Linked DNA regions of Homo sapiens. The protein of the gene in region 1 purifies or fractionates together with the protein of each later gene. This does not show direct contact. Each region holds a gene or a part of one and is shown on either strand. Other genes may lie near its edges.

Region 1 (3,500 bases):
GGTCCCTGATCTGTGATCTTCACTGAAGCTGCAAGTGTGAAAAGCTTGAAATGCCACAGGGCACCCGCATTTTAACCCAGGAGATACAGAAATCAAAACTGGAAACCTACCAGGAATTGATCTCAGCTGGAAGCAGAGAGAGGCATGATATTTGAAGGAGGACACCCAGACCCTTCACCATCCCCTTAGGCCTCCCTGGAGCTCCATTTTGGAGACAGGAGTCTGAGGTGGTCTGTGGTGCCTCCCAGTCCCTTGCCAGAGCAGAGACGGAAAGAATGGGTGACAGATGGCCACAAACTCTGTCTCTGTAACCCCCTGGAAGATTCCACCTGTCATGGCAAGACATGGCAAGCTGTGTCATCTAGGCAGTGATGAGTGAGCACCATTGGGTGGGCAGCTCGGAGGAGGGGAGTGCCTGAGCAAAGGTTCGGGAGGTGGGAAAGTGTGGTGGAGGGGCTTGTGGGGCAGGGAGTGCACCCTTCAAAACCCAGAGGTACATGACACACATTGCTTTACAAAGCGACTGTTATCAGATAACAGGGGTTGAGGAAACGGAAGACAAATTTTGTCTGGGGAGAGAATTACAGAAGAGGGGCAAAAGTATAAAGGGGGCTGCCCACAGAACCCCATCCTTGGGGCCTGGGTCACCTAGGGGATTGGGGGCATCTGTGTGTTCAGAAAGAGCCTTAACATGGGGTAAATGACACCCAAGGCCCCTTAACTTCCTGTTGGCCCCCAGCTATCTGATCCTATTAGGGAGTAACCTTTAGAAGAGAGTGGGGGGCCATGCGTTATCATCTTGTTATTGGGTAATTGATTGGTGCTGCTCTGATGGCCAACTCCAGAATGTCCTGTTGATACAACTATTGCCCCGAACCAGCATTTATTCTGAGAACCAGGAAGTCGAATTTCTCCTGCCCACCAGGAGTGTCTGAAACATGGATGTTTTCCCCCAAGATTGGAGCCAAAGATGAAAATCACAACTTTAATGACTTCCAAACTGGATCTCCCCTCCGTCCTACCCCACAGTGGGCCCTTCTGGTGGTTTGGTTGTTGCCAATCAAGCTAGAGGGACTCTCAGGCCAGGCAGGGAAAGTGGTGTGTCCCCCAACAGCTCCCTAATTGCCCTCAGGTGACATGCTGTCCTATTTAAAAGGTCCCTCAAGAAAGTCCTGCCCTCTGTACCCCAGCCCAGCCCTGCTGGAAGCCAGTGTACAGCTTCACATCTTCTGTCCTCTCCAACGTGCAGAGCTTGTCTGTGGTCTTGTACCTTTGCCCATGAGGTTCTTTCTGCCCTTTTTACAGGGCTCACCTCTTCCATGTAGCCTTCTATCCATGCCAGCTCACAGAGATTCCTCCTTTTTGAATATTCATAGCCTTTTTCACATGAACCGCTTGTTTGCCTAGCAATTTGAAAGAAGCCAAAACCTCTTTAATATCATGACTTCCTACTTCAGTTACAAACTTCCAAAGAAAGGGGTCAGGTCTTTTAGTTCCATATCCTTGTGTCCTACATGCACTTGGCACTCCATAAATGCTTGAGGCCAATGATACGCTGATTGAAGGCTGCACAGCCTTTTCTTTTGTGTCCCTGGAGCCCCTGAATTTCTGGAGGTGTTTACAAGGTGGCCTAGATCACAGGGCGGGGCTAAGTAGGGGGAGACCCAGGGCTTGGGGGGCTAGGAGCCCAACTCCATTCCGCAGCAGCTGGTGACCCCCACCACAAGGCTACCACACTCCTCTCCAAGTCTGGAAAGCAGAGGCCACCCAGGCAATTGAGTAGGGACCCTGCTTGGCCCCAACTCCCCTAATTTTATCCTCCCCAGCTGTGCTCCTGATACTTGTCAGGGAGAAAGGATGGGGGAAGGAGAGGCCAGCCCTGGATACTGTGTCTCAGCCGGAAGAATGGAGAATAGCTTGGTGTACAGACTTGGGGGAGCCCTGGGGCATCAGTGGGTCCCAAATGCGGGTCTCTGGACCACTGAGAAACTGGGAAAATAAGGGTGGCCTGTGTGTGTGTGTGTGTGTGTGTGTGTGTGTGTGTGTCAGCATCAGTGTCAGCCATGGCTGCCAACGTGTCTTTTCTTAGGCAGAACTGTCCTTTGCTGGTTTGGAAGAGGCGTGGGTGTTTGCATGTTGTAGGTCATCAGTAGGGCTAGAGAATCTGGGGTCCTGTCTCCTCTAGTATTTTAGGATTTTATTCTAGGAAGCTGCTCCCTTCCCTCTGGACCTCATTTTCCCATCTGAGAAAAGAGCTCCATGTTCTCAAGGTCCCTGCTCGCTCTGACAGTCGGCTCCCTGAGTTACCAGCTAGCAGGCAACGGAAGCTGGTGTCCTAGAGTAATAGCATTCAGGGGATCAAAGTGCCCATTGGAGCTGAAGTGGCCCATGGAACAGTCTAGAACATGCAGGCACTTTCACAAGAAACAAAGACCCATCCAGGAGACTTTTGGCTCATTACCCTGACCAAGCTACCTGGAAGGAAATGGTTTTTCTTTTTCTTTTTGTTATTGCTGTGGTTTTATTTTGAAAAACCTAGTCTTGAAAAAAGTACATTTGGTTTTGGGAGCCCACTTTGGGGCAGGACCCATGGCTCCTTGCCAAGTGGACAGTGAGCTGGGAAGGTTTCTCAGGCGGGGAGCCCTGGTGTGGCTGGAGTAGCCTCTCGAGGGTGGCTGGGCTGGTAAGGTGGAGCCTGCCTGGCCATCAGCTGTGGGAGCTGTGGAGGTGCTGAGGAGATCGCAGACAGCCGGGGATACGGGGCCTGGCTGTTTAGAGACCGTCTGTGAAGCCTGCCCCTGTCAGGGTTGGAGTCTGAGGGGCGGCCCTACCAACAGAGGATGAGACAGGTGTCCAGGCTGAGGGATGGCGCTCTCTGCCAGGCCTCGGTCTCCCTGCCCAGGGCTGCCCAGAGATAGCCAACGCGTCCCTGTGCAGGTGGGGGCGGCAGTGACGCTGTGTGCCTCCCTCCCCACGCACAGTGTAGTACAGCGAAGCCAGTCCGTCCCTCCTGCCAGCGTGGCCTTGATGGAGAAGAGAGGAGTGACGGGTACATGGGAGGCCTTCCCTCAGCCTGGCGTCCACAGGGCAGTGGGAAGGCATTACTATCTGTGTGGTGTCAGCGTTTATACAAGAGTCTGGAAGCCACCACTGTGTCCTCTCCTCTACTCTCCTGCCAGTAGGGCCTCTGTGCAGCCTTGGCATGTTTCCTCTCCACAGGGGTAGGGGTTGGAGGGACTGCCCCCAAAGCAGAAACAGTGCTGATAGTCAGAAGCTTTGAACATGGCTGCAGAACCCCCTGCCCCAATTTGACCTCAGTAATACCCAGGGGTGCCCCCACCTCAACCAGTACATGTTTAATGGAATGAACGAGCCTGCAATGAAATGTCGGTTCTCTTTTTAGCAGAAATGGCCTAGGCCGTGGTTGTGGTCAAGGCCTGTTGTCTGTAAGTGACGTGACGGCACACACTCAGGCCACATCCTATGGGGTAATGGTGCTT
Region 2 (4,419 bases), on another chromosome or scaffold:
TTTTTACCGATGGGAACATGCTCATTCAAAGGCTTACTCAAATGAACTGAAAACCGTCAAATACAGAAGCATCTTTAAAATGCTGAAAAATAGAATTATTACTATCTTCAATAATGGGGGCCAGGCATGGTGGCTCACGCCTGTAATCCCACCACTTTGAGAGGCCAAGGCGAGTGGATCACTTGAGCCCAGGAGTTTGAGACCAGCCTGGGCAACATGGTGAAACTCCATCTCTACAAAAAATACAAAAATTAGCCAGGCATGGTGGTGTGTGCCTGTAGTCCCAGCTACTCGGGAGGCTGAGGCAGAAGAATGGTGTGAACCCGGGAGACAGAGCTTGCAGTGAGCTGAGATTGCACCACTGCACTCAAGCCTGGGCGACAGAGCGAGACTTCATCTCAAAAAAAGGAAAAAGAAAAAAAAAAGAATCTTGGTGAACTTTAGATTTATTTGCTGGGGTCTTTTTGATGAATTGGAGTTTAAAAATATTCTTCCCTGTTTGCCGGTTTTTTTCCTAATTTGGATAAGGGAATCTTTGTACAGGGAGGGACTGTTCCAGTTTTACTGTCATATATAGTGTGGGTAAATACCTGTCCCAGTACACTCTAGTGATTACTTTTGTTTGTAAGAAATGAGAAGGTGAAAAGAGCAGGTTCATGGCATTCTCTTAACTTTCTCCTGTAAAGATCTTTTATGAACTTTAGGAACTGTATTGTTTAGAAAAATTATAACTTACTGTCTATACGTGGGACAAAAACCTTGCTTCTGTTGTAGTATGTTTGGAAGGAGACAATAAAGTAGTTGGTGATACCGGTGGTTTTGTGCTAATATGGTTTTCTATTGTGTATTTTACCTAAGTACATATTAAGAAAAGAAGAAAAAACATTAAACTTTACCATGATAGTTTCCGGGGAGATTTATTTTCTTTGCTAAAAACAGGACTAACGAAAAGTGAATAGGGAGAACTAGCTAAGTGGCACTCATATCTCTACCCTGATTCCCTCTTGTTTTCTGGGTGAAGATTGTGAAACAGATCCCTTCAAACCAGTGGCCAGCTACACTTCAAGTTGTTAAAATTGTCTGATTCTAATTTCCTCAAGTTATGTTCCAAACTGTACTCTCATTAACTCAAGATATTTGTGGTGTATCTTCATGTCTTTCAAACAGACATTTATATAAAACACTAATGAATCATTTTTTTGGAAGGAAGTAGTAGGATACTAAGTCCTATTTCAATGGCCTTTTTAATGAAGTGCAAATGAGAATCTCTCTAGAATGATTGTTTCTCAAGTAGAGAAAAAAAGATGAGTTTACTAATTTTGGGAAATTCACTGTAGTTTCCTCTTGGAGATTTCCAGTGCATGTTAGCATAGTATATTAATAGTTTCTGAAGTCTTGTCATAAAGACACCTATTTTTAAATTTTAATTGTGTATTTGTTTCCTAGGACTACCCATAACAAATCACCACAAACTAGGAGGCTTAAAACAACAGACATTTATTCTCTCACAGTTTAGGAGGCCAGAAGTCTGAATTCAGTGTTGGCAGGGTCATATTCTCTCTGAAGACTCTAGGGGAGGATCCTTCCTTGCTTCTTCCTACTATCGAGTGGTGGCAGCATAGTCCAGTCTGTCTTTGTGTTCACATGACCCTCATTCCCCTGTGGGTATCTGTGTATCCAAATTTCCCAGCACTTGGAAGGATACCAGTCATTGGATTAGAGCCCATCCTAATCCAGTATTACTTCATTTTAACTTGATTACATTTGCAAAGACCCTTTTTCTCCCCAGAGATTCTGGGTGGGCATGAAGTTTTGGGGATACTCTTCGACCCAGTACATTAAGTGAAAAGAGAGTTGTAATAATCACTTATATCTTTGCACATTCTGAGATACAGAATATTCCAGAGAACACACTTTGAGGAAAACACGTAGAACACAGACCTTCCTATAATCTTATATCTTGTCCTATCCATCTGGGGAGTTGAAGTGGGCAGGAGAAGGGCCTGAAACTAAGTGGGAAATGGAAAGAATGTTACTGTTCTAAGTGCCTTGCTTCTCATACTAAAATGTAATTTCTACATTTGAAATGTAATTGCTGTATTATTTTTACCTCTTTGTTTCCAGAGTTGTTTATATATTTGGCCCACCAGTTAAAGAACCTCCTACAGATGTTACTCCCACTTTCTTGACAACAGGGGTGCTCAGTACTTTACGCCAAGCTGATTTTGAGGCCCATAACATTCTCAGGGAGTCTGGTAAGTTGCTCATGTTTTTGATTACTACCCTCTGAAACTAGTTTTTGGAAGCTTGATATTAAGAGTAGGAGGATGTGGCTTTTGCTTTTTAGATGCTTTTGTTTTTATTATTTAAATCTTTGAATGTTCTATGATGTTGCTTTTTTTTCTTGAGACGGAGTCTGTCTTGCTCTGTCGCCCAGGCTGGAGTGCAGTGGCACAATCTTGGTTCACTTCAGCCTCTGCCTCCTGTTACAAGTGATTCTCCTGCCTCAGCCTCCCGAGTAGCTGGGATTACAGGCACCCGCCACCACACCTGGCTAGTTTTTTGTATTTTTAGTAGAGATAGGGTTTTGCCATTTTGGCCAGCTGATCTCGAACTCCTAACCTCATGTGATCAGGTCAGGAGTCAGGTCAGGCCAGCCTTGGCCTCCCAGAGTGTTGGGATTACAGGCGTGAGCCACTGCACCTGGCCTATAATGTTGCTTCTAAATAAAATATATTCCCCTTTGTGGCCATTTGTGGACATGCACAGAGCAGCAGAAAATTTGAATTTCCAGACTTAGATGTTCCCAGCTGAGTTTGAACAAGGTGACGCTATGCCTTCTTGTTTTCAGCTCTCATAATGTGAACAAGTCTTTTTCATGGTCTCCTTGATGCTATATCTTTTGCATTTTTATGTCTTTTGTTGGTGATTTTGCTGTTTAAAATGGATCTCAACTATAGTGTTGAAGTGCTGTCTGGGTTCCTAAGCACAGGAATGCTGTGATGTACCTTACAGAGAAAATCTGTGTGTTAGATAAACTTCATTCAGGCATGAGTTAAAGAGCTACTGATTGTCAGTTCAGTGTTAATGAATCTATAATAAATATTAAATACAGTGTCTTAAATCAGAAACACATAAAACAAGGTTATATATTAATCAGTTGATGAAAATATTACAACCAGAGGCTTGCAGGAACCTAACCCTCCATTTCCCCTGGGAGAAATGGTTCAGTATTCGCTAATTCGTTGTTTGCAGTGTAGAATATAACTATACTGCAAATTATAATAGAGAATAATGAGACTGGACTGTTTCTGTTTACAGCACATCAGTGAAACATCACTGATGTGATCAAATTCTGTTTTTTGCATTTGTGATTAAGTCCATTTAAAATGCTCTGCGAGTAGCTGAAATCAATGCATGATGACAGTCTTAACTACGCTGTGTGTGTATATGTGATTTCAGATATTGCCTGGGAGGATTTAATTGAACTGAGTTAGAGTGCTTTTCTATGGTGTGGTGATTGGTTCTACATATACCTTTCTCTAGGGTATGCTGGGAAAATCAGCCAGATGCCGGTGATTTTGACACCATTACATTTTGATCGGGACCCACTTCAAAAGCAGCCTTCATGCCAGAGATCTGTGGTTATTCGAACCTTTATTACTAGTGACTTCATGACTGGTATACCTGCAACACCTGGCAATGAGATCCCTGTAGAGGTAATTTATATATTTTTTTCTAATGCACGTTCTCAGTACCTCTTACATTTTATAATATGGTGAATGGAATAGGCTATGCCAGTGCTGTATTTCTTATGTTGGTTTTCTGTTCATAAGATAGGCTTTTTTTTTTAAATTTTCACATATTTGATTAATACACTGGGGCAGAAAAAGGCTTTAAATTATATATGCTCTCCAATTGTGTGATTACTGTATAAAAAGTAATTGATTATAATTTTATCTAATCCTGCCAATTTCTACTTTACAAACAGTATTCCCCAAATAAAAAAGAAAACTCTAGGAGTGAAGAAGAGTTTGTTAGAAATAAGGATGCAATTTGATAGCTTTATGGCCAGACACCCAAGAATTGCCTAAATGTTCTCCCTACTACCAATTCCAACTCAATTTTTGATCCTTCTTTGTCTTCACCAGAACATTCCAAAGGAGCTACTTGCATAATAGCAAGTGAAAATCAAAGTGAGACTCTATTAGTTGGGCCACTGCCTCCAGTGCACTAACACGAAGCTGTCGTGATAGCTAGGTAGATGGGTTGGTTCGGAACGTGGCTTAGAGTCATTTTTCTCTTAGGCTCAAATTTGTCAAATTTGACAAGTGAGCAGGCTATCCTCTCCTGTATACTTGATAATGATTATTACAGTGTACTCTGTGCCACCTTGGTGGCCCTTAGAGTTGTATGTTT
Region 3 (4,419 bases), on another chromosome or scaffold:
GGAGGTCTTCCTATGATGTCCAGGTTGGACTGCAGTGGCTATTTACAGGTGACCTGTAGCCTGGAACTGCTAAGCTCAAAGAATTCTCCCACTTCAGCCTCCAGAGTAGCTGGGAATGCAGTGCCACTGCACTTAGTCCATTGGCTTTCCTAACTTCAGGCTTGTATCAAAGCTAGAATACTCCATTAGTATGACATGATTTACTTTTCTTTTTTTTTTTTACAGTGTTAAACGTTCATCATAAATTCATTATATATGAAACAATCTTTACTTTTGTCTTTATTCCTGTGATAATACTTGTTTTCATATTGTTTGAAGAAAAAAGTTAAGCCTTGCATTCTTATATGCTGCTTTATGGAAATAATATGACTAAAATTCTACATGTTCTTGCCAGGCAAAGTGGTTCAGGCCTGTAATCCCAGCTATTTGGGAGGCTGAGGCAGGAGAATTGCTTGAGCCCAAGAGTTCGAGGCCTGCCTGGACAACATAGCGAGATCCTGTCTCTATAAAAAATTAAAAAATTAGCCAGACCTAGTGGTGCATGCCTGTAGTCCCAGTTTCTTGGGAGGCTGACATGAGAGGATCCCCTGAACCCAGGGGTTCAGGGCTGCAGTGACCTATCATCGTGAGACCCCCATCTGAAAAAATAATTTTTTTTGCCTGTTCTTGATTTTGTTCCATGAAAAGGCAAGAGATTTGTCAACTATTGGATACTCAAACAAAATGGCATGATTTATGATTCCAAAGGAAACTAGGTAAATAAAATTATTCAAATTATCTAAACTTGCTAAAGACATGCATATAGGGCTATATTATCTATAATATATGCTAGTTGGCATTCTTCCATAAGTTTTTCAGATTCATCTAGCAGAGAAAAAATTAAATATATTAATGTGAGTACCTACTGACAATTATCAGTTTCATTCATCTCACTTTGTAACTGCTCTATCTTGTAATGCCTTATCTCTAATGTTTTTGAAATTTTCTTTCCACGTAGTATCATCCCATCTGAAGATTTGAGCAAAGATCATTTACTTCTGAGTCATTCTTCATATTTAGTTATTCTTACTACACGTAGAGTGGTGGTATTACAGACTTTCTTGAGAATCATATCTAGCTATTTCCCCCCCGTATAGAGGCATAACATACCATTTGGCACAATATTCAAAGAGTCTATGCTGAAGCCTATTCATAGACTTTAGATCGAGAGCTTTTGTATCATAATATTCATTGGCTAAAAACATTCTTTAAGTATTAAAGAGAAGGCAACAATATAAAAATATAAAATATTTCAGACTCAAAAGTGATTAAACCATCATACCACTTATGAAACTTTATAAATATAATAAAGGTGAATATTAGATAGGGCATACATTACTCATCTCCAGATGAAATTTTTGGAATAACTGAAGATCTTTTAAAGACTTGGGAATGTTTTCAGTACAGGTTAAAATTTTGTAAATTATTATTTTATATCACATAAATAACAAATTTGCATTTTAGATAATTCAAATTACTTGGACTGATTTCTGCAAAGTTGTGTCTTTTATACTTAATGCCAAGATTGCATTCTATGGTATAAAATTATAATTTCAATTTATTTTCTAGTTTGGTTGTTTAAGTATTAAGCTAAACTTAGATGTTCCTATTGGCTTAACAATTTGTTTAGGTCAAAGAGTATGTGAGAACTACATAACACACTATTATTATTTGTTTCTTTTTGAGATAGAGTCTTGCTCTATCACCCAGGCTGGTGTGCAGTGGCGCAATCTCAGCTCACTGCAATCTCCACCTCCCATGTTCAAGCAATTCTCCTGCCTCAGCTTTCCGAGAAGCTGGGACTACAGGCATGCACCACCACTCCTGGCTAATTTTTGTATTTTTAGTAGAGATGGGTTTTCACCATGTTGGCCAGGCTGGTCTTGAACTCCTGACCTCAGGTGATCTGCCTGCCTCAGCCTCCCAAAGTGCTGGGATTACAGGTGTAAGTCACTGAGCCCAGCCTATTTTTTAAAATTAAAGTTCCTTAGCATGTATGGTACATTGACCACTTTTGAAAATGAAAAATAGGAAAGAAACTTGGTGATGATATTAGACAATTTAAATAATTAGCCTGATGACATCAAAATTCAAATATGTTTTTAATTACTTAACGTTTTATAGTTTATTTAAGTTATCTTATACTTGTAGAGCCATTCTTGGTTACTCTTTCCTGGTGTTGTAAAGGTGTCATATTTCAGTTGCCTTTATTATTATATGCAGTAGGAATGAATGGCAACAAATTATTGGTTTAAAGATTTTGACTTGAGTATTAATAGACTTACAAAATCTATGTGTACTTGTTCACAATGAGTTGTAGGATCTTATCTGTTTTTTTCTCTTAAAGCTGATCTTGAATTAATGAATAAACTCATGAAAGGTCTTTTGATGCCCCCTTGCATAACAGTCACCATTCTGATTTTCTGAAGAGAAGCATGTCCTAACTACTAAATGACCTGTAGGGGAAGATTTAGAGAAAAAGCAAAAGGTTGATATCAAGTTCACATTCTCTTGACTTTAGTCAATGAGATTAGGCTCCAAAACCCTTTAAGAGATCTTTCGCATTTTAGTGCTCCATTGTTGCTTTGGGATAGTGTGAAATTTGGAGGCTTCAACTAAACATTTTACATTAAAGTGCTTTACTTTTGCTAGAGTAAAACTTTCCAGAATCTATTCCTGAGATTTGTTTTAACATGTTATGGAAATGAGAGCAGTTATGTGAAAAGTTATCACATTCAAGCATCAAGGAACCAAACAATAACGCTCTCCATATTTATGATGAATTCTAACTTTCATCAGATTTATGAATAAGACAATTTATATAAATGAAATATTGTTTGGTATTAGACATATTTTAGTTTCTTATCCTTTGTTAAATACAAATTCCTAACTTTCTCTAAAATCTTACGATGGAGTGCTTGTGAAGGTTAAAAGTTATTGAAACAGCGGAATTGTAAGCTATATAAGGGGAGGGGTGCTGTATATTATTCTGTATATCATTTTCCATGATAAAGTGTAGGTTCTGGCCTACTGTATTTGAAAGATTTCTACTTTGAAGCAGAAAACATTTTTAAGCTACAGCGTAATAAAATTGTTGATGTTTTGTTACTAATATCATGTATATTAACTAAACCCGCATTTATAAATGATCCGTGAAAAATAACCCAAAGTCGAAACATTAGAATTAAGAGTGACCCAGGAAGTGGCTAAACCGAAAAGAACCTCAGGATCTTTCTTGTACTTACATAATCAGTCACATGATGTCGCTCTACACTCAGAAGGTGAAACAGGAAAATTTTTTTCTCCGCACCCACATTCCAATCATTCACGGAATAGGATCGACTCCATAATGACTGTGATGCTGGAAAAAATTTACTAAATATGTACTTACAGAAAAGGGTGACTGCTCATAAAATACCTCAGGCAAGCGATCCCTTAAAACTGATTGTCCCAACTCAGAGGCCCTCATTTTCTGCAATGGTGATTATCGGACCAAGAGGCCCGGGATCCCAGCGTCTGCTGCTCTCGCTTCTGCTCCTTGCAGCCTGGGAGGTGGGGAGCGGCCAGCTCCACTACTCCGTCTACGAGGAGGCCAAACACGGCACCTTCGTGGGCCGCATCGCTCAGGACCTGGGGCTGGAGCTGGCGGAGCTGGTGCCGCGCCTGTTCCGGGTGGCGTCCAAAAGACACGGGGACCTTCTGGAGGTAAATCTGCAGAATGGCATTTTGTTTGTGAATTCTCGGATCGACCGCGAGAAGCTGTGCGGGCGGAGCGCGGAGTGCAGTATCCACCTGGAGGTGATCGTGGACAGGCCGCTGCAGGTTTTCCATGTGGACGTGGAGGTGAAGGACATTAACGACAACCCGCCGGTGTTCAGAGAAAGGGAACAAAAGGTACCTGTTTCTGAATCTGCGCCTCTGGACTCTCATTTTCCTCTAGAGGGCGCTTCTGATGCGGATATCGGCGTAAACTCTCTTTTGACCTATGCGTTAAGTCTAAATGAGAATTTTGAGCTTAAAATAAAAACAAAAAAAGATAAAAGTATATTGCCTGAATTAGTTCTTCGGAAGTTATTGGACAGAGAGCAAACGCCAAAACTCAATTTATTGCTGATGGTAATCGATGGCGGTAAACCAGAACTAACAGGGTCTGTCCAGATTCAAATAACCGTCCTGGATGTGAATGACAATGGTCCGGCGTTTGATAAGCCCAGCTATAAAGTAGTGTTGTCTGAAAATGTCCAAAACGACACAAGAGTGATCCAACTAAATGCTTCCGATCCAGACGAAGGACTTAATGGAGAAATTTCCTATGGGATCAAAATGATTTTGCCAGTGAGTGAGAAATGTATGTTTTCAATAAATCCAGACACAGGTGAA
Region 4 (4,419 bases), on another chromosome or scaffold:
TCTTGCTCGCCACTCACCTCTTCCTGTGTGCCCAGGTTCCTAACAGGTTACAGAGCCCTGCACTTGGTGATAAGAATTTTTCAGCTCCATCATAATCTTACGGGGCCCCTGTCATATGTGTGATTTATCATTGAACAAAACACTGTTATGCAGTACATGACTATACCAGTTTCTTGAGTCCTTCTAGAAATTGCTGTGCATAACTAGCACATTTTCCCTTTTGTCTTTTTAAACAAGTATATCTTCTGTTTTATACGTTGACTCCTTTACTTACCAGACTTCTTGCATAGCTGCATAGTATTTCATTGAATAGAAGCTGACAAATTCAGTTTCTCAGAAGTAAACATTTAATAGGGACTTAGGAACAGAAATGATGTCTTGGGTGGCTGCAAGATGGTGGATCCCTGCACTTACCCTCCAGAAAGTATGCTTTCTATAGAGGCTTTTTTGGTTAAACATGCAGCTGGTCACACATTATACTTTCTTGTGAAACTTATGAGCACTAGCTGGTGGGGAGGCTTGGTAGACATCTTTGTGTGGAATTATTTATGCTACCCAACACTTTGGGATGCGGGAGTCAGATATTGGTGGTCATAGTGGTTTTGCATCAAGATGGCATCACTCTTGCCATGCAACCGGCATGTTTTCTTAATCTCTAAGGTCTATCACAAAGTGGAAAAGCAAGGTGTAAAGTGAGGGGAGAGGTGAAGATTGTCTGTATATGTCTAGAATATTTTCTTGAAGGATCGAAAAAACTGGCAACTGTGTTTGCTTCTGGGGAAGGAGGGACACTTTTATTGTACACTCTTAACTGTTTGAATTTTCACATGTTTGGCATCCAACTTGTCCATTTTAAAGTCATTAAGGAAAAAAGCTTATAAAAATGCTATCTTGTTACTTTAAATTTGTCTCTCCTTAATAGAAGTAATGTCAGCCGGGCGCAGTGGCTTACGCCTATAATCCCAGCACTTTGGGAGGCCGAGGTGGGTGGATCATTTGAGCTCAGTAATTTGAGACCAGCCTGGCCAACATGGTAAAACCCCATCTCTACTAAAAATACAAAAAATAGCTGAGCATGGTGGTATGCCCCTGTATGCCAGCTACTCCGGAGGCTGAGCAGGAGAATTACTTGAACCCAGGAGGCGGAAGTTGCAGTGACCTGAGATTGTGCCACTGCACTCCAGCCTGGGTGATGGAGTGAGACTCCGTCTCAAAAAAAAAAACAAAAAAATCAGAAGTAATGGCATTTCATTTATTCATATTTATGTGTTATTTGCATTTCCTTTTCTGTGAACCACCTGTTCTTGTCCTTTTCCAGTTTTCTTTCAGATTGTTACTCTCATGGATATGTAAGAACTTTTAACATAATTTTTAAAAGTAGCCCTTTGCCCAACATGACCCAATTTAGAACACACATCTGCCCACTGTTTAAGCCATCTGGAAAAGGAGAGGCCCAGTCTCCCTCCAGCTGCTCTTCTACTAATTCATATCCTTCATCTCAATAAGCACCTCCTTATCTTTAAGCACAGTCCTTCAGATGATAGGTTCAGTGCATTTCCTCTTTCTCTTCTGTGAAATCTTCTGTGAAATCCTTTCTAGGACTTCAAGTCAGCCATTCATTGAGAATGTAAGAACTTACTATGAACTAGATGGAAGATACAAAAAATTGCTGCCCCTGAGTGTGTAGCAGACATATAGCCATAGCAGTATTGAAATGTGCCATTGGAGGTGAATGCAGAGTGCTGTGGGGACACAGAGGACACTGCTGCCACTGTCTGCCAGGGAGCTGAGGAAGGTTGCATAGAGAGGGGAAATGCTAATTGAGTAACTACGTTTATTAACTATCTCGTACAATAATATACTTTAGTTGCTTCTTAATGTGAATTATGCTGGGTCTTTTTTTCCTTTCTGTCTACTGTGGCTGGTGACGTTAACTAATTTTATGACTTCTTTTCTGTTTTTTTTTTTTTTTTTTTTTGGAGATGGAGTCTCACTCTGTCACCCAGGCTGGAGTGCAGTGGCGCAGTCTCAGCTCACTGCAACCTCCGCCTCCTGGGTTCAAACAATTCTCTTGCCTCAGCTCCTCGAGTAGCTGGGATTACAGGCATCTGCCACCACATCTGACTATTTTTGTATTTTTAGTAGAGACAGAGTTTCACCATGTTGGCCAGGCTGGTCTTCAACTCCTGACCTCAGATGATCCACCCGCCTCAGCCTCCCAAAGTGCTGGGATTACAGGCATGAACCACCGCGACAGCCATGACCTTTAATATCTAAATGCTGGAGACCACTCAGAGCTCCCGATTCCTCCATCTAGTTGCTTACTTGTCACCTCTGTTTGGATTAACATCCCTAATATGACATGTCCAAAGCAGAACTCTTGGGTTTTGCCCCCTTCGCTTCATTTCCCCCAAGTCTTTCCCAGCTTAGTAAGTGATACCACTGTCTACCCAGTGGCTCAAGTCAGAAACCTGAGGATCATCTTTTCCTCTATCTCCTTTACCTCCTTCGTCAACTCATCCTTAAGTCCTATTGGTTATACTTAGAATTTCTATCCCAAATCCCTTCCTCTTCTTTCCACCTCCAGCGTCAGCACTCTAATCCAAGCCACTGTCTCATCTAGACTGTCACAATAGCCTCCTAACTGATCTTTATACTTTATTTACTCAACACTTATTTATGGAGTATCTTCTATTTTTTTTAGAACAGGAACCAAACATTAACCAATAGTCACCTAAAGAAATGTAAGATCTCATATTTGATAAGTATTCCAAAGGGCTGGAGTTGCAGCGAGAATCAATTATAGCACAGTTTGACTTAGGAAGGAGAGGGGGAAGGGCTTCCCCAAGAAGTACTGCCTGAGCTGAGACTTTAAGGATGATGAAGAGAGAAAGACTGAGGGTTCTAGGCGAAGGACACTGTTAAATCCTGTGGTGGGAGAAGCGCAGAGCTGGCAAAGAGGCTGAGAGGAGGCACTTATGGCAATAGCCCCATTTGGCTAGTGGCTACCATATTGGATAGCACAGCTCTAAAGGATTCTAGTTGCATAATTAACAAACTTTATCATATATGTAAATATATCAGTATAAAACTTTGCACGTAAGAGTTCATATTCTTTTCAAACACATGGGGCAGTCATGAAATTCTCCTGGATCCCTGAGGTAAAGATACTACACAATCTGTCCCTCCTGACCGCCTTCACCATCTTCTTTTCATGCCACTGTCCCTCTCATTCTGAACTTAAGCCCACTGGCCTGCACGGGCCTGCCAGCATGGACAAAGAAAAGAGTGAAGGCATTTAGTTGCTTCGGATCATCAAGGAACAGTGAGAAACTCCATGTGGTTGAACATAAACGTTGATTCCTTTTACTGCCTGAGCTGCTAAGTCTTGAAACTGAAGCCTCTGTTATATGCAGTTAGAGTATCCAAAGCTGGGTTCTCAGCCAGTAGATTAGGATCTGGTTGAAAGCTAGGATTCTTGATGCCTTGTCTGGTACATTTCCAAGCTGTTTTGCTCCACCATGCTCTTCCCTCTGTGTTTGGAAATTACCAGCCGGAGCGGTAGAAGCCACCTCCCTGCTCCACTTGGGCACTTTATTGTCAGCGCAGCTCATGCGCCCAAGATCCATTCCTTACCCCAGAGTTAGCTTAAGCCTGCCAGGAGTCAAAAAAACAACTCCCAGCAAAACCTGGGTCCCTGGCCTAAGGCCGACCTTGACCTAATGACCTCTCCAGGTCAAGTCCCCTTGAGCTAATAGGAAGTAAATGAGGGAATGGAGTTGGGCGCTTTAAAAATCAGACAGTGTATGAAGTAACAGTGACTTGTGGGGAGAAAGGTAGTCCCTTCTGATTTCTGCTTAAGAAGAGAGTCCAAGTTGGTGCTAGCATTTCGTTAAGCCTTCCTCATACTTCATAATCTTCCTTTATAGTAAGGACAGGCTCAGAGCCTTTGCAGGTAACAGTATCTAGTCAGAATTTTATAACATGATTTTATCATATTCTGTTTTACAGCCACCTTCAATATGTGGCAAGTGATACTGGTTTTCCATTTACAGTAGTGAAACAAAGTTTCCTATTTCAGTGTGTTTACATTTTTATCTCTTTTTTCATACCTAGTATTACGGATATTTACATTTTTAGAGTCTGTTTGTTTATTTTAGAGATGGGGATCTTGCTGTCTCGCGCAGGCTGGAGTGCAGTGATATGGTCATAGCTCACTGCAGCCTTGACCTCCAGGGCTCAAGTGATCCTCTCACCCCAGCCTCCCAAGTAGCTGAGACTATAGGCACAGACCACCGTGCCCAGCTAAATTTTTTTTTTTTTTTTTAAGAGACAGGGGTCTCGCTATGTTGCCTGGGGGATTACTATGTTGCCCAGGCTGGTCTTGAACTCCTGGCCTCAAGTGATCTCCCACCTTAG
Region 5 (4,419 bases), on another chromosome or scaffold:
GGTCTCGAACTCCTGACCTCAGGTGATCCACCCGCCTCGGCCTCCCAAAGTGCTGGGATTACAGGCGTGAGACACCGCGTCTGGCTGTGAACTTCATTTTTTAGTATTAAGCCTACCAGACTTTTTAAAAAGACTATTATAACATTTAATGTCTATTTACCTGTATGTAGAACATAAACTTGAGAGGTAAAGATAAGTTAATACATGGTTTGAGCCCTGGACTGAGTTTTTTTTTTTTCCCTAGAGTAAGGACCATTTGTCGGTCTACAAATGACTTGATGTTTGGCCTAAACATTTACTATTAACTTTTAGGGAGGGCTTGTTAGTATCCTTGTGATCTATTCACAGTTAAGAATTTCCATGACCACAACATGCTTCCTTAGATCCACCTTTGTGGATGAATCTTGAACTGAGTTCCACTTGTAAACTTCTTGTTTCTTGTGGTTCCAGTAGTCAAAGAAACATCCAGCAACTTTTTTGGTTGTATAGTCAAAGGTGCTTGAGTCATTGGCATGTAAGAGAAATATACCTGCATGTTAGTCTAACGTTCTGATAGAAATGACATGCATTTATGCTGCCATTTGTTACTATCAGGACTCGACTCGTGTGCGGACATTTCTGTTAATAATGACAGTCTCTGATAGATGAGTGTATGCAACTGTGTAAAACAAGTCTCTTGATTTCCTAGATTCTACAAGGGGGTTGCTCCTCTCTGGATGAGACAGATACCATACACCATGATGAAGTTCGCCTGCTTTGAACGTACTGTTGAAGCACTGTACAAGTTTGTGGTTCCTAAGCCCCGCAGTGAATGTTCAAAGCCAGAGCAGCTGGTTGTAACATTTGTAGCAGGTTACATAGGTACGAATTACTTAGAACACACTTGTCTGAAATTATGAACAAATAATCATTTCCATTATTGGCGTTTTTTGAGAGGGAAAAATACTCCAAAGGTTATAAAGCAGTGTTTTTGTTTTTTTGGTTTCCCTGAGGCATAGTCTCGCTCTGTTGCCCAGGCTGGAGTGCAGTGGCATGATAATAGCTCACTGCAACCTCCTCCTCCTGGGTTCAAGTGATTCTTCTGCCGCAGCCTCCCAAGTAGCTGGGACGGGCATGCACCGCCATGCCCGGCTGATTTTTGTTTTTGTTTTTTGTTTTTTTTTGAGATGGAGTTTTACCCTTGTTGCCCAGGCTGGAGTGCAGTGGTGCAATCTTGGCTCACTGCAGCCTCCGCCTCCTGGGTTCAAGCGATTCTCCTGTCTCAGCCTCCTGAGTAGCTGGGATTGCAGGCGTCTGCCACTACGCCCGGCTAATTTTTAGTATTTTTAGTAGAGACGGTTTCACTATGTTGGCCAGGCTGGTCTCAAACTCCTGGCCCCAGGTGATCTGCCTGCCTTGGCCTCCCAAAGTGCTGGGATTACAGGCGTGAGCCACCGCGCCTGGCCTGATTTTTGTAAAGATGGGGTTTCACCATGTTGATGAGTCTGGTCTCAAACTCCTGACCTCAGGTGATGTGCCTGGCCTATAAAGCAGTTTTATCTTCCCATAACATTTTATATGCTTTTTAGGATTCATAAATACTTGCTAACTAGTTCCTAAAAGGGCTGTTTCATGGGATGTCATTATTAGGCTTGGGAATGTATTGATCTTACTGTTGCACCATTTTTTTGTTGTTGTTTATTAAGAATTTTATACAGAAAGTGTTGAATAAAATCTGAAAAACTTTAAAAGATTGTTCCGTTTTACATAGGATAGACAGCTTGATAACTGTACCCGTGTCACCCTGAGTCTGATTTTTATTTTAGAACTAGAAAAATATTATTTTAAAATCATAAAAATGATTATTGGCTCTGTGAAGTTTTGTTTTTAACTGGCACTGTATGGGATCCTTTATCTTTTTTCAGCTGGAGTCTTTTGTGCAATTGTTTCTCACCCTGCTGATTCTGTGGTATCTGTGTTGAATAAAGAAAAAGGTAGCAGTGCTTCTCTGGTCCTCAAGAGACTTGGATTTAAAGGTAGGATGATGTTTTTTTCTTGAAAGAAAGAACAACAGTTTTGGATATGTTGCATTTTTTTCATTTGCTTTTCCTGTTTGAACCAGGTGTATGGAAGGGACTGTTTGCCCGTATCATCATGATTGGTACCCTGACTGCACTACAGTGGTTTATCTATGACTCCGTGAAGGTCTACTTCAGACTTCCTCGCCCTCCTCCACCCGAGATGCCAGAGTCTCTGAAGAAGAAGCTTGGGTTAACTCAGTAGTTAGATCAAAGCAAATGTGGACTGAATCTGCTTGTTGATCAGTGTTGAAGAAAGTGCAAAAGGAACTTTTATATATTTGACAGTGTAGGAAATTGTCTATTCCTGATATAATTACTGTAGTACTCTTGCTTAAGGCAAGAGTTTCAGATTTACTGTTGAAATAAACCCAACTCTTCATGATTTGCCTGTGACTTATTTTTAAAACTTTTTTAAAAAAGATTTAGCTTTAAAATAGTTGGAAAGAATGAAGTATATAAGTTAAGGAAAAAATACAAAACTGACCATGACCATTGTTGGTTGAATATTCCAGTTGCTATTCAGAAATTGTCATATGTCTCAAGTTTTATCACACAAAGTTCCTGTATTTCTAGGGAAGCAGACTTTAAATTTCTAAAAACTTGATTTAATTATAGTTAAATATGTGTAGTCATTTGTGGTTATTTTGGCAAGTAAATGTCAGTGTATACTTACATTTTTGCAGCATGTACTACACCTTTTTTATGTTGGTGAGTTTGCTAATCCTTATTTGTAAGACAAGGTAAACCAAATTAGGCTGATTCTTAGAATGACAGTAAAGGACCAAAGTGATTGACAGCTGAAAACAATTTTCAGGTACACTAATTCTCTTTACACAGATCTGACTTTTTTTTTTTTTGAGACGGAGTTTCACTCTTGTTGCCCAGACGAGTGTAGTGTCGCGATCTCGCCTCACGGCAACCTCTGCCTCCCAGGTTCAAGCGATTGTTCTGCCTCAGCCTCCCAAGTAGCTGGGATTTCAGGCATGTGCCACCACGCCCAGCTAATTTTGTATTTTTAGTAGAGACGGGGTTTCCCTGTGTTGGTCAGGCTGGTCTCGAACTTCCAACCTCAGGTGATCCGCCCGCCTCAGCCTCCCAAACTGCTGGGATTATAGGCATGAGCCACCGTGCCCGGCTCTGACTTTTTACAGAAAATTGAACTATTTTCAGTCTGGTATTTTAAGAAAGGTACTGCTTGACAGCTGAACTATATGAATGCCACTGGGGAAAAAGCATTCCATCATACTTAGATACGAGATTGGATTGTAGGTTTAAGCCCATTTTTAAAGAGCTCCTAGAAAGTGAATTAGTTTTTGTGTTTAGATTCCCCTTAAGTTTGATTAGGAAGTGTATAAAAGTTCAATCTTTTGTAATGACAGCCCACCACTGGAAAAAAAACGAAAAACCTAGTGTAATATATAACATGCTGTTTTTCAAACACTAGATTTTACCTAGAGTCCTTATGTGTAATACGTGGGTTGGTTAACAGTCCCTACGTAAAGCGTACAGATGGCCTGGAGAGAAAAACTTTTTCAGAGATTGGAGAGAAATGTTACTACAAACTCATGGTAAGGTCAGTGAACTCAATTTAGAAGCCAGTGCAGCTAGTTGCATGTTAACTTCTTTATATCATCATTGCCTGAACTTGTTAAAGGTTCCAACATTTTACCTGTGCTGCAGGAAAAAAGGAAAAGTTGTAGGTACAAATTTGGACCAAACTTTAAAAAGGTAAAGTAGGATGTCTTCTGAACCCAACCAAGTGGTGGCTGTGGTGCTTAGCAGTATCAACTGTATATTATTTCTTGCTATGTTAGCAAAGCATCCAAAGATCAATGGTGTATGATAAGCTTTTCTGTGGGTGAAGAACTCGGGAGTATCAGACTCTTCTGGTTCTGAGTCTCATGAAGCTTTTCACTTCTGAGCTGAAAGGATGCTCTTTGTGCTTTTCACTATTAGTGGTATAGTCTTTCCCGAAAATCTCTAGCATGGTGGCTTCAGGGCAGCTGGACTTAGGTGGTATTTTGGGGCTCCAGGAGAGCTTGGCAGAGTTGGCTTTTTAGGACTTATCCTTCAATGTCACATAACATCACTTTTACCATGCTCTTGGTTACAACAGTGATGTCTCAGAAACCAAGTCCCAGATTGAGGAAAAAAGGAACATAGTCTCTACCTCTTCCTGAGAGGAAAGTCAGTCAACGTGTAAGAGGAGCAGTAGAAACGCATTAGTCCAGCCAACGTGAAAGTGGACCGTAGATCTAAAACATTTTGGGTATGCAGTTCAGCCAGCCCTTACTGAGGCAGTTCTGCCAATCAGGATTCAAGTTTTATTTCCTAAGAGTTATAATAGGTTTTATTTGTG
Region 6 (5,200 bases), on another chromosome or scaffold:
AAGTAAGGTAAAATATAAGTTCCACCTGTATGAAAAGATAATTTTGACTTTGAGAGTACACTTAGATGAATGTCATTTAACAGATCCAGGTTGTCACCTTATATTTTACACAATATTTCGAGAACTAAGAACTTTCTCTTCCATATTCTAAAAGATGAATAACATGAACATATCGGGAAGCACCATCGTTTTGCAGGTCCAATGGGTGTCATTTTAAAACCACCCAAGTACACTGAGACCGCTAACGCTAGTAATGTGGTGTTTGGCAGCTAGTTTTAATGACTGTCATTAGAGCTTTATTTTTTATTTTCTTTTTATAGAGACGAGCCCAGGCTGGTCTTGAACTCCTGGCCTCAAGCGATCAGCCTGCTTTGGCCCCCAAAGTGCTGGGATTACAGGCGTGAGCCACCGTGCCAGCCTCGTTAGTTTGAAAAGCACCAAAAGCTATCCATAGGAATGTGAACTTTAGCATTTCCTATCAAGTATGTATAAATACATAACTGAACCCTCATACAGCATAAAGCTTATAAATCATATACTGAGGCCAGGCGCGGTGGCTCACGTCTGTAATCCCAGCATTCTGGGAGGCCTAGGCGGGCGGATCACTTGAGGTCAGGCGTTGGAGACCAGCCTGGCCAGCACAGCGAAACCCCGTCTCTACTAAAAATGCAAAAATTAGCCGGGCGTGGTGGCGCGGGCCTGTAATCCCAGCTACCCCGAGGCTGAGGCAGGAGAATCGCTAGAACGAACCCAGGGAGGTGGAAGCTGCAGTGAGCCGAGATGGTGCCACTACACTCCCGCCTGGGCGACAGAGCAAGATTCCATCTCAAATAAATAAATAAAATAAAAAATAAATCATATACTGAACCATTTAACAAATACATATATTCCTGAGAAAGAATTTCCTGGGGGCATTATCGCATTTCTAGTTTCCTTATTTTAGACTATTTCAGAGGGAGATAGGGTCTCCCTCTGTTGCCCAGGCTGGGGTGCAGTGGAGCTATCGTAGCTCACTGCAGCCTCGAACTCCTGGGCTCAAGCCATCCTCCAGCCTCGACCTCCCAAAGTGCTAGGACTAAAGGCGTGAGCCACCGCGCCGGGCCGGAGCCTCTGTCTGCAAAGGTGAAGCAGTCAGTACTGTGGGGCGACACAACCACGACGTGCGTAACTATGCGATCTCCACACTGCGGAGCAGTTGAACGGGACAATAAAAGCTCGCGTGGTGAGAGCTTGTGGGCGAGTGACTCCCTTCCAGCTCACGCCAGCCACGCATAATCCAACTCCGGGTGCCACGCCGCTCTCTGCAGCCCTGGCTGGTGACGCCGAGCCCTCAGCCCGGCCTTACGCGGCGGCGGCTCTGCCTCGCTTTCCTGCCCACGTGTCAGCCCCTGCACGCCCGGCCCCGGCCTGAGGCCGCCAGAGGACAGGCCAGGGTGGGCCGCCCGTTCCGAGGGCGCGCGGGCGGAAAGGAGGGGCGCCCGTGACTCACATGACCCGGTCCCCGACCAGACCGCCAAGCCTCACCCACGCGGCGCTCGGGGGGACTCGGCCTCTGAGCGCCCTACAGAGGCCAGCCCCCGACCCCGACCTCCCTGGGCTACCCCCAACCCCCCTGAGGGACCCCCGCGGCGCACATACCTGAGAGCCCCGCCGGAGGCGGGTGCGGCCTCCGGGCAAATCCGGCCGCCCGTGGGCCCGCCCCGACCCGCCCCGACCCGCCCCGACCTTCCCCTCCCTGCCCCTCCCGTCCGTTCCCCTCCACTCTCCTCCCCGCCCTTCCTCTCCCCTCCCCTCCCTTCCCCACTGGCGCGCGAGCGTGCGCGCCGAGCCCGCCCGCGCCTGCGCGCCCCCGACGCCCCGCCGGCGCGCGCTGCCGCCAGCGAGGCCCGGGGAGGCCGCGGCGGAGGCGGAGGCCCGGCGCCCTGGGCGGCGCCCTGTCCCCGAAGTCCGTCCTCCCCGTTAGGTGGCGAGCGCCCGAGGGGAGGGGACAGCCGGGCAAGCAGGAAGCTGCGGCTTAAAAGGGCAACCCGCGCGGGACCCTTCCTCCCTAGTCGCGGGGAGTCTGAGAAAGCGCGCCTGTTTCGCGACCATCACGCACCTCCCCTCCGCTTGTGGCCATGTACCGCTACCTGGGCGAAGCGCTGTTGCTGTCCCGGGCCGGGCCCGCTGCCCTGGGCTCGGCGTCCGCCGACTCGGCCGCGTTGCTGGGCTGGGCCCGGGGACAGCCCGCCGCCGCCCCGCAGCCGGGGCTGGCATTGGCCGCCCGGCGCCACTACAGCGAGGCGGTGGCCGACCGCGAGGACGACCCCAACTTCTTCAAGATGGTGGAGGGCTTCTTCGATCGCGGCGCCAGCATCGTGGAGGACAAGCTGGTGGAGGACCTGAGGACCCGGGAGAGCGAGGAGCAGAAGCGGAACCGGGTGCGCGGCATCCTGCGGATCATCAAGCCCTGCAACCATGTGCTGAGTCTCTCCTTCCCCATCCGGCGCGACGACGGCTCCTGGGAGGTCATCGAAGGCTACCGGGCCCAGCACAGCCAGCACCGCACGCCCTGCAAGGGAGGTGAGCGTCGGCCGGGCCCCGTCCCGCCCTCCCTGCCTCCCCTGCGGCCCTCCCCTCCGGCCTCCTGCCGGTGCGGGGCCGCTGCTCAGCCCAGCCCAGCCCAGCTGGAGCGGGCCGGGTCCCCGCCCGGGTCACCCCGCCTCGGATGTGGCCGGCTCTGTGGATGGTGATTTTTCCGCCTTAAAATCATCATGCGATTGGCCTGCCCCCTCCCCCGCGCCGTCACCCCGGGCCTCTGTATATGCTGATCTTGCATGCAGAGTAGACGCTGCACCGGTCTCCTTTTGGTCCCGGTGTCTGTGTCACACACGGCGGGTCCTGCCGAAATGCACTTCTAGGAAAGGGAATGACCTGCCCGTGTGATAATGCCTCGTCAGTGTTCTTGGGCTTTTGTGAGTCTCCCCTAAATGCAAGCTGTCAAATTATTTTCTGGTATTTGTTCACTCCTGTTCCAATAGTGACAGATGATATCCGAACATAGAAAATGACTTGGCTTCTAAGTTTGAAATCTAGACAGTTTTATTAACCAAAGGAATTTACTAATCACGCGTTAATCGTTTCAATTAAGTAATTTTCCCATTCTGACAAGTTCTGTTTTATACCAAAAAAAAGGAAAAACACAAAAAAATCACAAGCAATGTAATATCTCTGACAAATAAACACCTGGCGTCCTGACAGTAAATTTACAGGTTGTAGGCTGCGGATGGCCAGCCAGCCAATGGAATGAAATAGCTCTGGGGGTGTGTACTGGTCCTGGCTAGCCCTGAATTTGAGCTTCAGGAAAAATATAGTACGTGAAGAAAGGGGTCAGATAATGTTTGGTAGTCACTGGGTTATCCTGTGGTTTAAATCATTTAATGTCTGTAGATTTGGCCTCTGTAGTCAGATTGCTTTCTTCGAGCAAATAAGAGCTTTTTTCCCCCCAATACATTGCATCATACCTCTTTAGTAACATAAAATGGAAAGGACAAACCACTTTTGTCTACTGTAAAAAAGAAAAATTATATGGAATAAAGAGCCCAGGGAGGCGAGGAGTCTTGTTGGAGGTGGATTGGCTGAGAAGCACAGAGGATGTTGGGCTAGACCCATGTCTCAGTAAACCTGGTTCTGTGGTCTTTCAGTTATGCCCGCTGACTTATGAGGATTTTTAGAAATCCTCTCTGTACCGGAAAAAACTTGAGCGGTGCTGGTGTTCCCAGCAGGGGGGACAAAGGTTGTTTTTAAAGATTTACTAAATTTGCATTGACCCCGCCCACTTCTAGGACTTAACTTTGGAGCTTAATTATCCCCTAGCTCTGGTTGCCTCAGCCAAAACCAATGTTTGAACCACTTTGACCTCTGATTTCCTTTCTAGCTTCAAAATTGTATAAAATGTACACACCGTCAGTCTCCTACATTTGCCTGCCTTCTTCCTACCACTCCCTTATTATCCAAACCAGGAAAACAAGTTCAGACTCCAAAGAAAGGCAAATAAGGATGTTGGAGGAAGTTCAGGCAATGTTTAGCAAATATTGAGTTGCATCGTTTTCTTAAAACGGACATCAAGTTTATTTTTTACTATCTTGCTGGCAGCATTTGCCAGTCCTTTAAAAGGTGTACAGATAAATCAGTGTATGTGGTTTTCTGCAGGATGATTTGGTCTCTGAAATCCTTTTTCTTCGATTCTTCAGATGCCCAGCTCTCTCCTGTTTTTATAAGTCGCAGCTCCGCAAACTCACTGAAGCAACTCGTTTACCATAGTTTGTGAGTCCTCTTTCTCTTGTTGCCACAGCAGTTTTAATGCCAAAATATTGAACCTAGCAACAAATTGGGTCAGCCATACCAAAGCACTGTTACTGTAGCACTTGCTTGTACTAGAGTGTAAGATACAATTTTCTGTTCCGTTTATCCCATTTACAAAAAAACATGCTATTAACCCCCAGCATATAAACAGGGAGAAACTGAATTGTTACTAGTAAACTGTTGCAAGCATTGATAGAACATCAAAGAAAATTGGCCTCTACAAAGTGACAAATTTATTATCTTCAGGAATTTGAAAGGCTTTCTGGATTGGGGAAGATTACATAGCTATGAAAGCCCTTAAATATTTTAGTTTGCTTAATAAACAGTATACTAAACAGATGATCAGCAAAATTTGGGTACTATAGCCTTCCATGCTTTGTGTTCAAGACATCCCCAGATCTATCTACCCATTTATCACCCTTGTTTGCAGAGAATGTGCATTGTAAGAGAGACAGGTCTTCTTTCTTAAAGCTTTTTTAACGTCTAAGAAATTGTTAACCTTTGTAGTCCCACTCTAGTCTTAGAAACACAGAATATATTAGGTGATTGAGATTTTTTTAAATGCTTTGGATAATCCCTATGAAATTCTGTCTTTCCCTCTTAAACATATTTTAACACGTTCTTCTTACCTCTCCCCACTAACCTGTCTTCTCTCCCATTGGTTCTTTGCCAAAAAAAAAAACCTCATCTGCCTCTCTCCACCCTTTTACCAACCTTCAGCTTTCTGTATCTCATTTTCCCTCAAGAACAACCTTATCCCTGAGTTTTCTAAATTAAAATTCTTGAGGTTGAAGCAAAGCAACAATCTAGCAATAATCTCTAAGGGAAACAGATGGTTATAAGACTTGGTGGCTGA
Region 7 (4,419 bases), on another chromosome or scaffold:
TGGGACCCCCGAGCCTGCCACCCCTCAGGCTTGGCTACAGCCGGTCAAGCATCTGCTGAAGAGCAGAACTGCTCCGAGCTGCAGAGACGCGAAGGTCTGGCCCCAAGCGGCTGGTGCGGACGCCAGCACGGAGCCACTCACAGTGCAGACACCCGAAGCAGACACAAGGCTCTCGGCAACGGCAGCTCAGCCTGAGCCCTCACTTAGGACATGCGGGAGAGCACGTGACGAAAGGCTGCGGCCACTCACCTTGGGTTTCGCTCACGTTTCCCACTGAAGCGGGATTTGATAATCCCCGCAATTCCCGAGTGCAGAATGTCTCGGGGCCCCGCTCGCATGTGGCCCGGGTCTCCCCGCACGCGCCCGCACGGCGCAGAGGGCACCTCACGTCCTGGGGCCCGGGTCTCCCCGCACGCGCCCACACGGCGCAGAGGGCACCTCACGTCCTGTTACGTGTTTTCTAGGACTTAGCAGCTGTCACAGGGTTGCCACATAAAGCAGGTCATGACCCAAGGTGCAGGGGCCACGAGTGACAAGATGCAGAGAGGCCTTCAAGTTCCACAGCTCAGCCACAGACCAAGGCTCTGGAGACCCTCCCCACAGACATGAGAAGCTGGGCCTGGAGCCCTGAAAGTGGAGGGCGGAGGCCGATCTAGAACCTGATGGAGCCCAGGTACCCACATGCAGGCATCAGACACAGGTCCTGGAGGATTGAACCCCGAGGGGACGCTGGGAGCTCCAAGGCTGCGGCCGCAGGAAGAGAGTGGCGCTGGCCCTGTCCCACCTTCATCAGACTCAACCATCCCACAGGCCCTAAGCCTCCTGGGTCATGAGGAAGACACTGGGCCCCTGACCCCCTAACCAAATATGCCCGAGAGAGATAGAAAGCAATGGAAGAAAAGGCCCAGCTCCATACATGCTCCCAAGAGACAGGGAAGCACCAGGCACTCCTGGAGCCACCTCCTGCCCCAGCCAGCCCGACGCCTCCTCACCGTCGACTCCGTCAAGCCGCCCAGGGACACGACTAGCCCCAGCAGGACGTGGTAGCGGTAGGTGGGCAGCCCAAGGAGCTGGGTGATGCGTGGGAAGGCCTGGGAAGGTGCACTCCAGTTCACGGAGGCCACATCGGACCTGCAAGAGAGTGAGTGAGACAAGGCCGGGCTGCCAATGATCTCGCCATGGCTGCGGGGCCAGCACGGGGGGCCTACACCCCGACAGTACCTGGGAAACAGCTTTTCCAGTTCTCCTCGGTGGGGCACGTGGGGGATGGGAGGGCTGTCAAAGTGCAGGAGCGTCAGGAACACGCTGGCGGCGTGAGCACGGAAACGGTCAATCTTCTCACTGGCCTGCTGGGCCACACAGCACATGATGCGCTCACAGCTGCAAACCGAGAGCAGGAGGTAAACCAAGGGCGGGCGGTAAATTAAGAGCGGGCGGTAAACTGAGCACAGGCGGTCCGAGCCGTGACTCCAGCCCAAGCACCACGAGGACATGCGGGCTCCTCGGGACATGGTGGCTGAGTTGGCAGCTGACACCAGGACACTGGCTCGGAAGAACCACACTCCGTTACCTTCACATCCCAGGAGCCCAACCCTACAGGTGCGCAGCAAATACATGCTACGTACTTGTTACACATGTGCTACGTGTTACATGCGTGCTGATGAGGTCTTAGGGTTGAAGCAGGGACAACAAATAGGATTACAGGAGCGGGTGGAGAAGAGTGATGGGGACAGAGAGGCCGGGGATGGGGAGAGAGAAGCTGGGGCTGGGGAAGAGATGGGGAGGGGGAAAGAGAAAGAGGTGAGAACTAAGGAAATCAGGCCCTGGGATCCCCACGGCCGAGTGTCCCTGACAGAGAGACTGACAGCAAGGGCAGGGCCTGGACCCCCATGACTCAGTGCCCCCGACAGAGACCCGCAAGGGCAGGGCCTGGACCCCCTGACTGAGTGCCCCTGACAGAGATCCGCAAGGGCAGGGCCTGGACCTCCATGACTCAGTGCCCCCGACAGAGAGACCGACAGAAAGGGCAGGGCCTGGGGGTACCCACAACCCCGTGCCCCCGACAGAGACACACAGCAAGGGCAGGCCCCAATGGCAGCCTCAGGTGCAGGGAACTGAGTGATGGCTCAGCTGGTCCTGGCAGGAGCAGACCCCCAGGTTCAGGGTCCTAAGCTGAGAAGTCCCCACCTCCTGCCCGGCCCTACCCCGGGAAGCTGGCTGTCATCAAACTGGCCAGAGCACCGTTGGAGGCCCAGGCTGGGGAGCAGAGCCTCGTCCTGGGGGCACTGGGCAGAGGAGGATGGGCCCCAGCTCACGCCATGGCTATGGGGGCAGGAGGAGGGGCCTGCACAAACCTGGGGTCAGGGACCAGAGAGGCTCTCTGGGAGGAGGGTGTGTGCCCAGCAGTGCAAATGCCACTGAGCACCAGGACCGCCCGCCCCGCCAGCCTCCCCAAGCTCGGGGCTGCCCTCTAGGATGCAGAAGAGCTGCGACGTGACACTCACGTATGGGCCTCGATCAGCTCAGGCTGGCTCCGAGCCAGCAGAAGTGTCAGATCCATCAGACTGGTCATGGCGGCCTTGCGGACCCTGATGGGACAAGGAGAGGCAGAGACACCCAGCTTGAGAGGGGGGTTCCAACCCTGGTTCTGCCCACCACGCCGGCAGCCTGTGTGAATTCGACACCCGTGACTAACCCCACACAGAGCCCAGGCACGCTGCCAGGGAGTCACGGGGCCTGCAGAGGTTCCCTGTGCGCTACAGGGACGTGTGCAGGGAGCCACCCACAGCCACACACACCGGGGCCCCGAGGCATCCTACACACACAGGCGTTTCAGGGGTTATCAATCCCACTACAGCAAGAAATGTTGGCAAAACCCAATGTAAGCAGCCGGCAGCCTTTCATTGAAGACGCGTCCTCCCTCACACCCTGTCAACGAGGACGACACAGGCCCAACACCTGAGGACGGGCTGGACAAGCACCTGCAAAGCCCTGCCACGCAGGCTCACCCGGGAGCAGAGAACAGGTCATCTTCCCCAGAGCCTTTAAAACGCAAAACACGGCACAAATCTACAAAGATTTCTCCCTGCAGAAAAGCCCGGGGCCTCCGAGTTTCCACGGAATAGATGGGCTTCTCAGAAGAAGCGCTCACCCACTGCTACGTACGTACCAGGTGCCCACGTCCCCTCTGCTGTCCGTGGTGTAGTCGTCCATGCAGCCCAGCAGCGCACAGTAAATCTGGGAAACATTCTCTCCGCACACAGCTTCGTCTGGGGCTCCTGCTTTCACACCAACAGTCTGGCAAATCCTGAAATTTAAAATGTGTGAGCTAACAAACAAACATCGGTGAGCCTCATCTTCCACATCGCAGAGGGCTGATGTGTGTTCCTGATCCTGAGAAGACACGCTCAGAACAGTCCAGGACCCTCGGGTAGATCAGAAACACAGAGCTCCTTCCACATGTATGGAACGTGGGACGTGCTTCCCCGAGGTCACGCTCTGCCGTCTCTCCGGTTGAAAGGTGGATGGGGACGCCCCCTGCGGCTGGTCCCTCCCACTTCCCACCCTGACTAGAGGGAACGGATGCTGGCATAGGAGAGAAGGGGGCGTGCGTGGCCCCCGCGGGACTGCTCCTCTTGTGTGCCTGCAGGGAGGAGAGGGCATATGGCGTGGCCCCAGGTGCGTGTCTGTCAACGAGTGCAGAGATCATTCCAAACACTGGCTGGCAGGGTCAGCTCCTCTTTGCCAACCTTGGGCCAGGACACATTCTCCAATTCTCCAAGGGGCCCAGTGTCCCTAAAGAAGTTTAACATTCACTACGACTATGACAGCAAGAGAATGAAAGAGCCTCCAGCAGCTGGGACTGACGATCCTCTGGAAGAGAGGAAACCTAGGAAGTGAAGAATCATAAGTCCTGCCTCTGAGCAAAAACATCCCCCTTAGCGTTCATCTGCTGGCCTTTCAGAGACTTACGACTTTAGGGAGGAACTGTTGGGACTCACCTCGCAATGGCCTTCAAGCCGTCTCTCCTGGACTCAGCAAAACTTACGTCCTCGGGGGAAGTGTGGGTAACTGCTCTTAAACCTGTGAGAACCTGGAAAGCAATAAAGAATCACAGAAGAACCATAAGCTATAACAAAGTGCACTCTTTAGGGAGGTGGCAATGTTGGCCCGGAGCCACAGACCCCACACCATGAGATAGGCAGCTCCTGGCACCACCTTCCTCACGGCCATCCATGGCCCCTGGTACAACCCAGGAAGGACACCCGGGGAGAGGTCACCTCCAGCCTCTCCACGGCCCCCAGTACAACCCAGGAAGGACACCCGGGGAGGAGTCACCTCCAGCCTCTCCACGGCCCCCGGTACAACCCAGGAAGGACACCCGGGGAGAGGTCACCTCCAGCCTCTCCACGGCCCCCA

The links.
Region 2: the proteins of RIN3 (region 1) and GMPS purify together in Homo sapiens (affinity purification with mass spectrometry, with the first as the bait; one large-scale study listed by BioGRID). This does not show direct contact.
Region 3: the proteins of RIN3 (region 1) and PCDHA11 purify together in Homo sapiens (affinity purification with mass spectrometry; one large-scale study listed by BioGRID and IntAct). This does not show direct contact.
Region 4: the proteins of RIN3 (region 1) and ADAR purify together in Homo sapiens (affinity purification with mass spectrometry, with the first as the bait; one large-scale study listed by BioGRID). This does not show direct contact.
Region 5: the proteins of RIN3 (region 1) and SLC25A3 purify together in Homo sapiens (affinity purification with mass spectrometry; one large-scale study listed by BioGRID and IntAct). This does not show direct contact.
Region 6: the proteins of RIN3 (region 1) and GLUD1 purify together in Homo sapiens (affinity purification with mass spectrometry, with the first as the bait; one large-scale study listed by BioGRID). This does not show direct contact.
Region 7: the proteins of RIN3 (region 1) and TBCD purify together in Homo sapiens (affinity purification with mass spectrometry, with the first as the bait; one large-scale study listed by BioGRID). This does not show direct contact.

Annotation. Positions count from the first base shown.
Region 1 is NC_000014.9:92,516,781-92,520,280, forward strand, and holds part of RIN3 (ras and Rab interactor 3), read left to right. Parts: intron 1-3,500. UniProt on the Homo sapiens protein: Ras effector protein that functions as a guanine nucleotide exchange (GEF) for RAB5B and RAB31, by exchanging bound GDP for free GTP. Required for normal RAB31 function.
Region 2 is NC_000003.12:155,932,792-155,937,210, forward strand, and holds part of GMPS (GMP synthase [glutamine-hydrolyzing]), read left to right. Parts: intron 1-2,124; coding exon 2,125-2,255; intron 2,256-3,546; coding exon 3,547-3,719; intron 3,720-4,419. UniProt on the Homo sapiens protein: Catalyzes the conversion of xanthine monophosphate (XMP) to GMP in the presence of glutamine and ATP through an adenyl-XMP intermediate.
Region 3 is NC_000005.10:140,871,957-140,876,375, forward strand, and holds part of PCDHA11 (protocadherin alpha-11 isoform 1 precursor), read left to right. Parts: intron 1-3,284; exon of another isoform or gene 3,285-3,516; coding exon of another isoform or gene 3,517-4,419. Other genes in the region: PCDHA12 (protocadherin alpha-12 isoform 1 precursor), read left to right, coding at 3,517-4,419. UniProt on the Homo sapiens protein: Potential calcium-dependent cell-adhesion protein. May be involved in the establishment and maintenance of specific neuronal connections in the brain.
Region 4 is NC_000001.11:154,590,695-154,595,113, reverse strand, and holds part of ADAR (double-stranded RNA-specific adenosine deaminase), read left to right. Parts: intron 1-4,419. UniProt on the Homo sapiens protein: Catalyzes the hydrolytic deamination of adenosine to inosine in double-stranded RNA (dsRNA) referred to as A-to-I RNA editing.
Region 5 is NC_000012.12:98,599,267-98,603,685, forward strand, and holds part of SLC25A3 (solute carrier family 25 member 3 isoform b precursor), read left to right. Parts: intron 1-368; exon of another isoform or gene 369-618; intron 619-688; coding exon 689-861; intron 862-1,904; coding exon 1,905-2,015; intron 2,016-2,101; coding exon 2,102-2,262; 3' UTR 2,263-4,419. UniProt on the Homo sapiens protein: Inorganic ion transporter that transports phosphate or copper ions across the mitochondrial inner membrane into the matrix compartment. Mediates proton-coupled symport of phosphate ions necessary for mitochondrial oxidative phosphorylation of ADP to ATP.
Region 6 is NC_000010.11:87,091,687-87,096,886, reverse strand, and holds the start of GLUD1 (glutamate dehydrogenase 1, mitochondrial isoform a precursor), read left to right. Parts: upstream 1-2,043; 5' UTR 2,044-2,117; coding exon 2,118-2,562; intron 2,563-2,799; exon of another isoform or gene 2,800-2,908; coding exon of another isoform or gene 2,909-2,954; intron 2,955-4,232; exon of another isoform or gene 4,233-4,305; intron 4,306-5,200. UniProt on the Homo sapiens protein: Mitochondrial glutamate dehydrogenase that catalyzes the conversion of L-glutamate into alpha-ketoglutarate. Plays a key role in glutamine anaplerosis by producing alpha-ketoglutarate, an important intermediate in the tricarboxylic acid cycle.
Region 7 is NC_000017.11:82,926,074-82,930,492, reverse strand, and holds part of TBCD (tubulin-specific chaperone D), read right to left. Parts: intron 4,094-4,419; coding exon 4,002-4,093; intron 3,308-4,001; coding exon 3,170-3,307; intron 2,589-3,169; coding exon 2,505-2,588; intron 1,381-2,504; coding exon 1,222-1,380; intron 1,132-1,221; coding exon 993-1,131; intron 1-992.